Regions from separate parts of the Homo sapiens genome. Here region 2 is linked to region 1. Evidence: fine-mapped expression QTL. A gene starts in region 1. The other region holds a variant in brackets. All regions are shown on one strand. Distances are from middle to middle. Region 1 holds the start of TFR2 (transferrin receptor 2). Region 2 has its middle 13 kb from the start of COL26A1.

The links. PIP is the estimated chance that this variant, and not a neighbour inherited with it, causes the effect.
Region 2: its variant is fine-mapped to the expression of TFR2 in nucleus accumbens (GTEx, PIP 0.95).

Annotation. Positions count from the first base shown.
Region 1 is chr7:100,639,385-100,644,751 of GRCh38, forward strand. It overlaps TFR2 (transferrin receptor 2), which reads right to left and starts at 2,168. Exons shown (of 18, transcript NM_003227.4): 1 at 2,093-2,168; 2 at 1,592-1,844; 3 at 1,302-1,488. The coding sequence starts at 2,125. ACTL6B (actin like 6B) reads right to left here. Exons shown (of 14, transcript NM_016188.5): 14 at 3,713-3,942. The coding sequence ends at 3,862.
Region 2 is chr7:101,347,690-101,353,056 of GRCh38, forward strand. No RefSeq gene overlaps it. Among named protein-coding and RNA genes, the nearest start is that of COL26A1, 13 kb to the right of the region's middle. The variant G/A (reference allele first, on the strand shown) is at 2,512.

The DNA of each region.
Region 1 (5,367 bases):
ATAAAAGTCTCAGTGAGCTAGGAGTGAAAGGAAACTTCCTTAATTCAATTTTAAAAAGCTGTCTGGAGCACAGCAAAGTTCATTGTCAATGGCAAAGTATTATAAAAGCATTGCTATTAAAGTCAGGAAATAGGCAAGGATACCTACTGCCACGGTTACCTTAAATTCATGTCCTCTCAAATGCAATGAGAAATGAAAAAAAAAAAAACGTAGAAGGTATAAGCATTGGAAAAGAGAATCTCCATCTCCTACTATCTGTAGCTTAGCTGATTACCTACTTAGAAAACCCAGGCGAATCCACTGAAAAATTACTCCCGTCCCAAAAGAGGGCTATGGGTGGACCTAGCTTTTGGATCTGCACCCACAAATGCATTTGCTTACTTGTTTTTCTTTTTTTCTTTTCTTTTTTTTTTTTTTTGAGATGGAGTCTCGCTCTGTTGCCCAGGCTGAAGTGCAGTGGCGTGATCTCGGCTCAATGCATGCTCCACCTCCTGGGTTCAAGCCATTCTCCTGCCTCAGCCTCCCGAATAGCTGGGACTAGAGGCGCCCGCCACCATGCCCGGCTAATATTTTGTGTTTTTAGTACAGACGGGGTTTCACCGTGTTAGCCAAGATGGTCTCGATATCCTGACCTAGTGATCTGCCCGCCTCCGCCTCCCAAAGTGCTGGGATTACAGGCCTGAGCCACCGCACCCTGCCGTTATTTTGTTTTTGAAACAGGGTCTCGCTCTGTCTCCCAGGCTGGAGTGCAGTGGCATAATCTCGGCTCACTGCAACCTCCGCCTCCCCGGCTCAGGCAATCCTCCCCCGTCAAGCTCCCAAGTAACTGGGACTACAGGCACTCGCCATCATCCCCAGCTAATTTTTGTGTTTTCTTTGGTAGAGACGGGGTTTCATCGTATTGCCCAGGCTTGCTTGCTTGGTTTTCTGATTCCCTAGAATGCGGCTTCTCAGAACCCCTCAGCGCTCCCTGCTCCAAATCTAGGCGCCTGGGTGAGGCATTCAAGGCTTTTCTGGGTCTGTCCAGTCTGATACTGGATGCTGCACCCCTCTGATCTCAGACAGTCAGCTCCCTCACCTCCCAAATATGCCACCCTCAGAGCCTCAGTCCCCTGGAACCTCAGCTCCGAATGCCTGCCATCCTTCCCAGGACCGCTGAACAGGGGGGCCAGGAAGGCAGATGGGAGGACTCAGGAGGGGGACCCAGACACCAGAGGCCTGGGCCAGGAGGCAGGGAGGCCCAGTCTGAGCGGATGAGGGGAGGGACACTCGAGAACAGGATGGGGCAGGGCCATCCCTACCTGATGGTGTCCTCCAGGCGCCCCTCCCCCAGGAACTGCAGGAACATGGCCTGGAGGTCGCTCCAGTAGAGTCTGCCCTGGTGGAAATCCAGGTCAGGCTCATAGTTGACATCCTCACTGACCACCAACACAGAGTCTCCGCACGCCTGGCAGGACCCTCGGAAGGCGACGTAGCCCAGTAGGAAGGCTGGCGGGTGGCAAGATGGGGATTCTCTTTATGCCCACCTCTGGACCCCAGAAATCTCCCCCAGCCCAAGCCCTTCACTTCTGGGGAGGGGGACGGCTCTCACCCCCAGTGAAGATCAGCAGGGCCGTCAGGACCAGGTAGGGGGCAGCCCTCCGTCCTGCTGCCGCCCAGGGAATGAGGTTTGGCTGCCTGGGTCTAGAGCCCAGGGGCTCAGGGCCCCTCAGCTCCATGGGGCAGAAGTGGGCCAATGTCTCCGCCCCCTCCTCCCCGTCTTCCTCTTCCTCCTCCAGGTGCCCTTTCCGGGGGCCTTCCACACGCTGGTAGACGGTCTGAGAGGATCTTGGGGACAGTTGTTGCTGTGCAGGCGAGGTGGGCATGAGATTGGGGCAAGAGGCCTGGGGGGTGGGGAGGCATCTGGCAATAATGAGGTCAGTGACTTGGGGGTGTCAAATGAGCATGGTGGTGGGGGCGTGGGGGAGGGGCAGGGGTGGGAAGAAGCGAGGTCAGGACACGGTCCAGGAGGGGCCAGCCTCAGGGGCTTGGGAGGGGGCTGAGGGACTTAGAGAGAAGGCCTAAGGGGTCTTCCCAATCCCACTAGTCTTACCGCTCTCTGGAATAGACCCCAAAGCCGCTCCATGCTTGTGTCCCCTCCTGAAGCCTGCAGGCTGTCCCCCAGCGATAAACCGATAAACCGTTTGTGGGAGCCCTAGGAGGGCCCCTTATCAGTCCTGGCAGGCAGCCTGAACCAAGGCTGCTCCTCACCACCCCCAAGGGTGGGGGCACAGTCCTGGCCTCAGTCCAGCCTTCCAGACGTGGCCCCCGGGTCCAGGCCAGAGCACAAGGGGCTGTGCTCTCCCCTGCCAATCTCTCCACAGCCCCACGCCTGCCTCCTCCCTGCAAAACAATCAATTTTTTGACCTTGGGGCGGACTTTGGCCTCCTAGTTCCCATCAGGGGTGGGGGAAGGGGGCCGATAGTGGGGGAGGGCAGAGACATGGGTGCCCCCTCCCCTCTCCTGCTTTTACCCCTCCCTGGATCCTGGGGACCCCTTCCTAAGCCCCGCCATGCCCAGGTGGAAGATTCACCCCTAAGACATCTGCCCCTTCCTCATCTGGCCTTCAGAGTCCCCCAGTGCCCCGGTCCTGTGACATATCAGCTGTCCTCCCTGTCCTGACACTTGCCCCAGTGGCATTCTAAGCTGGAGGCACCACAGTGGTGTGACTTGGGGGTCTGGTCTGGTGGTGTGCATGTGTGTCTCTTTTGAAAGGTCGTTCTCAGACTCCTGCTGGCTGCTGGAGAAGGAGGGGCACAGGTGGGAGCACATGGTCAGATGAGACCAGCGAGAGCTCCCAGATAGGGGTCCTGGGGTCAGGGATATGTGGGTCAGTGGGGAGGAGTGATCAGAGTCCCCGCCAAGGTGTGGGCAGAGCTGGGTGACCCTGGACAAGTCATGGTCCTCCCTGGGCACCGGCCCGTTTGGTCACCGAAGGACTTGGATCACATGGGTTTCTACCTCTTTGGGTTCTGAGGCTGATGAAAGGCCAGTTAGCCTCACCCCAGAAACATGTCACAGGCATAAACTGCTAAACAGGCAGGGGGCGCAGGTCCCCAAACCCTTCCGAGGGCCCCAAGACAAGTAGCTCTGAAGAGGAGGGCTCAGGGTCCCACCAAGTTTCCCTTTCGGGTTTCCCCTGGGAAACATCAGCTCCTACTCAGGTCCAGAGAAGTTCCGAGCTGCTGGGATGCACCAGCGCCCTAGTCCCCGCCCCATGTCTGTCACCACCAAGAGCCCCAGGAAGGAAGGCATAGCGCATCTCACCTGAGCGCAGGTCCTGGGGTGCTCAGGCGTGCTGCTCCCCTGAGACCTAAGGCCTACGCTGAGGCCCCGCCCACCAGGCCCCACCTCCTGTTCCGCCCATCCAGGCTTCACCTCCTGCTCCACCCACCTCCTGCCACACTCACCCCAGGCCGTGCCCCTCCACTGCACCCTGCAGCCCCTCCCACCTCCCACCACAACTGTTAGCCCCCAGCAACTCCCCCAACCCCCGGTCCTCGTCATGTGGCCCTCCCTGGGTCACAACCCCTAGGAAACCTGAGGAATCCATGGCCCCTGGGGCTGTGTCCCAGCACCCACTGTGGGATCGGCATGGGTGTAGAAGTGAGACTCCCTCCCCTCACCTCCCTCCAGACCCCTGTGCCCACTCCCCACCCCACGGAGGCCAAACTTTTTTTTCTTAAAACATTTTTACTTCTTTCAACCCAGAAACATCACCATTAATGAGGACAAGAGGGAAAGGAGGAGGGGGGCAATGTGGCATGGGGGTTAAGGGACTTCCATCTGAGCTTGGGAGCAGGTGTGTGGGGAGGAGTGCCATCAGGGGCACTTTCGCTCCACGCACTGCTTCCCGCCCTCCTCATATTCCTGCTTGGAGATCCACATCTGCTGGAAAGTGCCCTGGGTGGAGGGGGTAATATCAGGGTCAGGGTGGCCTTGGAGGGAGGTGTGGACAGGCAGGTGCAGCCCCTGGGAATCCTCCAACAGGCCCCAACCACCCCTTGGGTTCACATCCCTCTGAAGCCCCTCCCCACCTCATCCTCCCCTCCTCGGTCTGTCCCCTTTCATATTCAGAGGGAGAGTATCCTCTTCATATCATTCAATCAATAATTCATTCATTCAACAAGTATTATTGAACAGCAGTCTCTGCCCTGAGCTAGGCCCTGTTCCTGAGCTGGGGGGATGGCACGCACAGCCCCAGGCCAGGCAACCTGCACCTGGCACTCAACACCCCCTACACACACACAGTCCTTCCCCACCAGGTGTCCTCTTCTCACTCCATCAGGGCTTTGGAACACCGCCAGTCTCCCTCTTTCCCAAGGAAGATATTCCCTCCACCTCACCATTCCAACACTGTGGCACCCCATCTGCAGCCTTCGGCATTACAACTTGCCCCTTGAGGGTTCCTGCAATGAGCATCTCAGAGTGTCCCTTCTCTCTATTTTTTTAAAATTTTAATTTTAATTATTTTTATTTTTATTTTATTTTTTTGAGATGGAGTCTTGCTCTGTCGCCCAGGCTGGAATGCAGTGGTGCGATCTTGGCTCACTGCAGCCTCCGCCTCCCAGGTTCCAGCGATTCTCCTGCTTCAGCCTGCTGGGTAGCTGGGATTACAGGCGCGTGCCAACACGCCCGGCTAATTTTTGTATTTTTAGTAGAGACAGGGTTTCGCCATGTTGGCCAAGCTGGTCTCAAACTCCTGACCTCAGATGATCCGCCCGCCTCGGCCTCCCAAAGTGCTGGGATTACAAGCGTGAGCCACCGCGCCCAGCCTAATTTTTATTTTTTGTAGAGATGGTGTCTCACTATGTTGCCCAGCCTGGTCTCAAACTCCTGGGCTCAAGTAATCGTTCCACCTCAGCCTCCCATAATGTTGGGATTACAGGCGTGAGCTACCACGGCTGGGCTTCTTTGATCTTTCTCAGCCTACACACATGTGCTGTCCAATGCAGTGGCCACTAGCTTCCTGTAGCTCACCAGCCCTGGTCCAAATTGAGACGTGCTCTAAGTGGAAAATACACACCCAATTTTTTTGGGTTTTTTTTGAGACAGGATCTTGCTCTGTCACCCAGGTTGGAATGCAGTGGCACAGCTCACTGCAGCCTCAACCTTCCAGGTTCCAGTGATCCTCCAACCTTGGCCTCCCAAGTAGGTGGGACTACAGGTATGCGCCACATTGCCAGTTGCTTTTTAAATTTTTTGTAGAGATGAGGTCTCGCTTTGTTGCCCAGGCTGGTCTAGAAATTTTGGGCTCAAATGATCCTCCCGCCTTGGCCTCTCAAAGTGCTGGGATTACAGGTGTGAGCCACTCCACTTGTCCAGGAT
Region 2 (5,367 bases), 710 kb after region 1:
CTCTCAGCGATCGCCGGGGCCATGGCTTGCTCTCTGCCGTGCCTGGCTTTTGCACACTTTTTTGGTTTTGCTCCTTGGATTTTCATTTCCCACTGCCACCCAGCCCTCCAGCTGCGGACCTGGTCTCCTTTTTATATTTATGCACGTATTTTCTTTATTTTTTGAGACAGTGTCTTGCTGTGTCACCTAGGCTGGTGTGCAGTGGCACAAACATGGCTCACTGCAGCCTTGATCTCCTGAGCTCAGGTGATCCTCCTGCCTCAGCCTTCCATTTAGCTGGGACCACAGGCGCACGCTAGCATGCCTGGCTAATTTTTTTTTATTTTTGTAGAGATGGGGTCTCACTTTATTGTCCTGTTCTCAAACTCCTGGGCTCCAGTGATCCTCCCACCTCGGCCTCCAAAACTGTTGGGATTATAGGTGTGAGCCACGACAACTGCCCTGGACTTGCTCTTCAGAAGACCATGGCTTCCTCTTGCAACCTGTAGCCTGAGGCTGGTCTCCAAAGCCGCACAGATGCCTCCTCCTCACGGTTTTTTTCATGAGCTCTGGGCTTCCTGGGTGGGGCTGGAGGTGAGGAAGGGATTTGAGAATTGGGGGATTGATTGTATCTCAAGGCAGAACTCTGGCTCATTGGTCAGCCGCCTCTGGGAGATGTCCTCTCTCCAGCTCGGTGTGCCTGCACAGGTTTGAGTCCCTGCTGTTGAGAGATGACATTGTGCTGGCAGTCCTCAGAGCCCTCGCTTGCTCTCGGCACCTCCTCTGCCTGGGCTCCCACTTTGGCGGCACTTGAGGAGCCCTTCAGCCCACCACTGCACTGGGGGAGCCCCTTTCTGGGCTGGCCAAGGCTGGAGCCCACTCCCTCAGCTTGCAGGGAGGTGTGGAGGGAGAGGCGCGAGCAGGAACCGGGGCTGCATGCGGCGCTTGCGGGCCAGCTGGAGTTCTGGGTGGGCGTGGGCTTGGCGGGCCCTGCACTCGGAGCAGTCGGCCAGCCCTGCTGGCCCCGGGCAATGAGGGACTTAGCACCCGGGCCAGCAGCTGCGGAGGGTGTACTGGGTCCCCCAGCAGTGCCAGCCCACCGGCGCTGCGCTCGATTTCTCACCGAGCCTTAGCTGCCTTCCCGCGGGGCAGGGCTCGGGACCTGCAGCCCGCTATGCCTGAGCCTCCCACCCACTCCATGGGCTCCTGTGCAGCCCGAGCCTCCCCGACGAGCACCACCCCCTGCTCCAGGGCGCTCAGTCCCATCGACCACCCAAGGGCTGAGAAGTGCGAGCGCATGGCACGGGACTGGCAGGCAGCTCCACCTGCAGCCCCGGTGTGGGATTCACTGGGTGAAGCCAGCTGGGCTCCTGAGTCTGATGGGGCCTTGGAGGACCTTTATGTCTAGCTCAGGGATTGTAAATACACCAATCAGCACCCTGTGTTTAGCTCAAGGTTTGTGAGTGCACCAATCCACACTCTGTATCTAGCTGCTCTGGTGGGGCCTTGGATAACCTTTATGTCTAGCTCAGGGATTGTAAATACACCAATCAGCACCCTGTGTTTAGCTCCAGGTTTGTGAGTGCACCAATCGACACTCTGTATCTAGCTGCTCTGGTGGGGCCTTGGAGAACCTTTGTGTCAATACTCTGTATCTAACTAATCTGATGGGGACGTGGAGAACGTTTATATCTAGCTCAGGGATTGTAAACGCACCAATCAGCACCCTGTCAAAACAGGCCACTAGGCTCTACCAATCAGCAGGATGTGGGTGGGGCCAGATAAGATAATAAAAGCAGGCTGCCCGAGCCAGCAGTAGCAATTTGCTCGGGTCCTCTGCCAGAGTGTGGAAGTCTTGTTGTTTTGCTCTTTGGGTCTACACTGCTTTTATGAGCTGTAACACTCACCGCGAAGGTCTGCAGCTTCACTCTTGAAGCCAGTGAGACCATGAGCCCACCGGGAGAAACGAACCACTCCAGACGCGCCGCTTTAAGAGCTGTAACACTCACTGTGAAGGTCTGTAGCTTCACTCCTGAGCCAGCGCGACCACGAACCCACCAGAAGGAAGAAACTCCGAACACATCCGAACATCAGAAAGAAACTCCAGACGCACCACCTTAAGAGCTGTAACGTTCACCGTGAGGGTCCGTGGCTTCATTCTTTAAGTCAGTGAGACCAAGGACCCACCAATTCTGGACACACTGTGAGCACAGGTATGAGCCCCTGTGGTGTGCACAGGTGTGAGTCCCTGCCAAGAGCACATGTGTGTTTAGTTGGGCGTGCGCCTTTGGTTCAAACCTAGCCCCTTCATGTTTCAGCCATCTCAGCCCCACACACAGTATTACCTTTGACCCTCTGCCCACCTCTGCCTCAAGGCACCTCCCTACCTCTTAGCTTTGTTTGAATCCTTCCTCTACCTTCCACCTTCCTCTACCTTCCAATCCTCTCTCGACACCACGTGGATTTCCTGGTCACCAGACCCTCTGCCTCCACTCGCTCCTCTGACCTGCTAACTTCGAATTGTGTGGTATC[G/A]GGGATAATGTCTTTTTTTTTTTTTTTTTTTTTTTTTTTTTGAGGTGGAGTCTCACTCTGTCACCCAGGCTGGAGTGCAATGGCGTGATCTTGGCTCACTGCAACCTCTGCCTTCCGGGTTCAAGCGATTCTCCTGCCTCAGTCCCCTAAGTAGCTGGGATTACAGGTGCCCAGTACCACGCATGACTTAATTTTTTTGTATTTTTAATAGAGATGGGGTTTCACCACGTTGGCCAGGCTGGTCTCAAACCCCTGACCTCAGGGGAGCCACCCACCTCAGCCTCCCAAAGTGCTGGGATTACAGGCATGAGCCACCATGTCTGGCCAGGGACAATGTCTTTTTGTATTCTTCTGAAAGATCCTGTAAATCAAACTGAGGGAGACATGATGTCTCACCTGCTGGGCACCAGCGGGCTTGGTGTGGCTTGCCATGGATTAGGGTTGGATTGGTGAGAAGGAAGGACACAGGTGGGAAACTGAAGGACAGGAATGTGACCAGGCCCCCCAACGGTGCAGATGGACAGGCATCAAGAAGATCCCTTTGAGTCTAGGTGTGGTGGCTCATGCCTGTAATCCCAGCACTTTGGGAGGCTGAGGAGGGCGGATCACCCGAGGTCAGGAGTTTGAGACAAACCTGACCAACATGATGAAACCTGTCTCTACTAAAAATACAAAAAAATTGGCTAGGCATGGTGGCTCACACCTGTAATCCCAGCACTTTGGGAGGCGGAGGTGGGCAGATCATGAGGTCAGGAGTTTGAGACCAGTCTGCCAACATGGTGAAACCCCACCTGTACTAAAAATACAAAAATTAGCCGTGTGTGCTGGCAGGCGCCTATAGTCCCAGCTACTCAGGAGGCTGAGGCAGGAGAATCGCTTGAACCCGGGAGGTGGAGTTTGCAGCGAGCTGAGACCACGCCACTGTACTCCAGTCTGGGCGACAGCATAAGACTCCGTCTCAGAAAAAAAAAAAAAAAAAATTAGCCAGGTAGCCGGGTGCATGCGGTGGTTCATGCCTGTGATCCCAGCACTTTGGGAGGCTGAGGCAGGATGGATCACCTGAGGCCAGGAGTTCAAGACCAGCCTGACCCACATGGAGAAACTCGGTGTCTACTAAAAATACAAAATTAGTTGGGCGTGGTGGCGCATGCCTGTAATCCCAGCTACTTGGTAGGCTGAGGCAGGAAAATCACTTCAACCCGGGAGGCAGAGTTTGCGGTAAGCCGAGATTACACCATTGCACTCCAGCCTGGGCAACAGGAGCAAAATTCTGTCAAAAAAAAAAAAAAATTAGCCAGGCATGGTGGCTTGCGCCTGTAGTCCCAGCTACTTGGGAGGTTGAGGAAGGGGAATGGCTTGAACTCAGGAGGCAGAGGTTGCAGTGAGTGGAAATCGGCCACTGCACTCCAGCCTGGGTGACAGAGCAAGACTCCATCTTCAAAAAGACCAAAAACAAAAACAAAATGGACTATTGGAATAGCCATTTAATTTGCTGTCTTCCGAATATCTAGTTCACCACTGATGTTTGAGGAAACAGGCAAGTTTATACCTGTTGGTAGGCAGAGCAAAGAAGTATTCACTTTCATAGGGCCTGAGTGGAATTTTGGGGGTGTCCAGGTAAAGAAGAAAATTCAGGCTGGTCGAGGTGGCTCATGCCTGTAATCCCAGCACTTTGGGAGGCTGAAGTGGAGGGATTGCTTGAGTCCAGGAGCTTGAGACCAGCCTGGGCAACACAGGGAGACCCCAGTCTCTACAAAAAATTAGCTGGGCATGGTGGTGTGTGCCTGTGGTCCTAGGTACTTGGGAGGCTGAGGTGGGAGGATCACCTGAGCCCAGGAGGTCAAGGCTGCAGTGAGCCACGATCGCTCCACTGCCCTCCTGCCTGGGCGACAGAGTGAGACCATGTCTCCAAAAAAAAAAAAAAAAAAAAATCAAAAGTGGAGATCTTCTATAATATCTATATGTTCTGCTTGCATCTTGCCCTGGCCAAGTAGGGAACACTTGCAGCAAAGCAAAGAAATCTTTTGTTTTGACTCCCCTGCTCCCTTGAGTTAACTCCAGCCCATTCCTGCGTTGTTTTGGGATCCAGAACAGCTGGGAGCACAGACTGCTGGAGAAATCAGGATGAAAACAATTCTGTTCCTACCAGCACCTTCCTGAACTTCTGAGAGAATTGCAGAATCCATGTTCTATAGGGCAATGGGTGTGGTGGGGCGGATCTCTGTTTTAGATTAACAGGAGGATTTATCATGCCAAGAGGTCAATATTTACATTGGCTTTAGCATCATGAGTATTTACTTCTCTGTTCAGTGGCTCTCCCTGCTGACTTCAGCAGAAGCAAGATCTGCTTTTTGTCTGCTGAAGAGGATGCTGACTGATTACGTTCTTATCAGAAAGGTCTGGAAACAAAACTGTCACGGAGCCCACTTCCTTGGTGAAGCTTGTCTTCTTTCATCTAGAAATCTGATCTGGCCAGGCATGGTGACTCACGCATGTCATCTCAGCACTGTAGAAGGCCAAGGCGGGCGGGTCACCTGAGGTCAGAAGTTCAAGACCAGCCTGACCAACATGGTGAAACCCCGTCTCTACTAAAAAAAAAAAAAAAAAAAAAAGAAATTAGCTAGGTGTGGTGTTATGTGCCTGTAATCTCAGATACTTGGGAGGCTGAGGCAGGAGAACTGCTTGAACTGAGGAGGCAGAGGTTGCAGTGAGGAGAGATCGTGCCATTGCACTCCAGCCTGGGTGACAGAGTGAGACTTGGTCTCAAAAATAAAAAAAAAATCTACTCCAGCCTTGGGGACAGTCTCATGCTCTATAACTAATCTCTCTAACTAATCTCCTTCTACTTTTTATCTC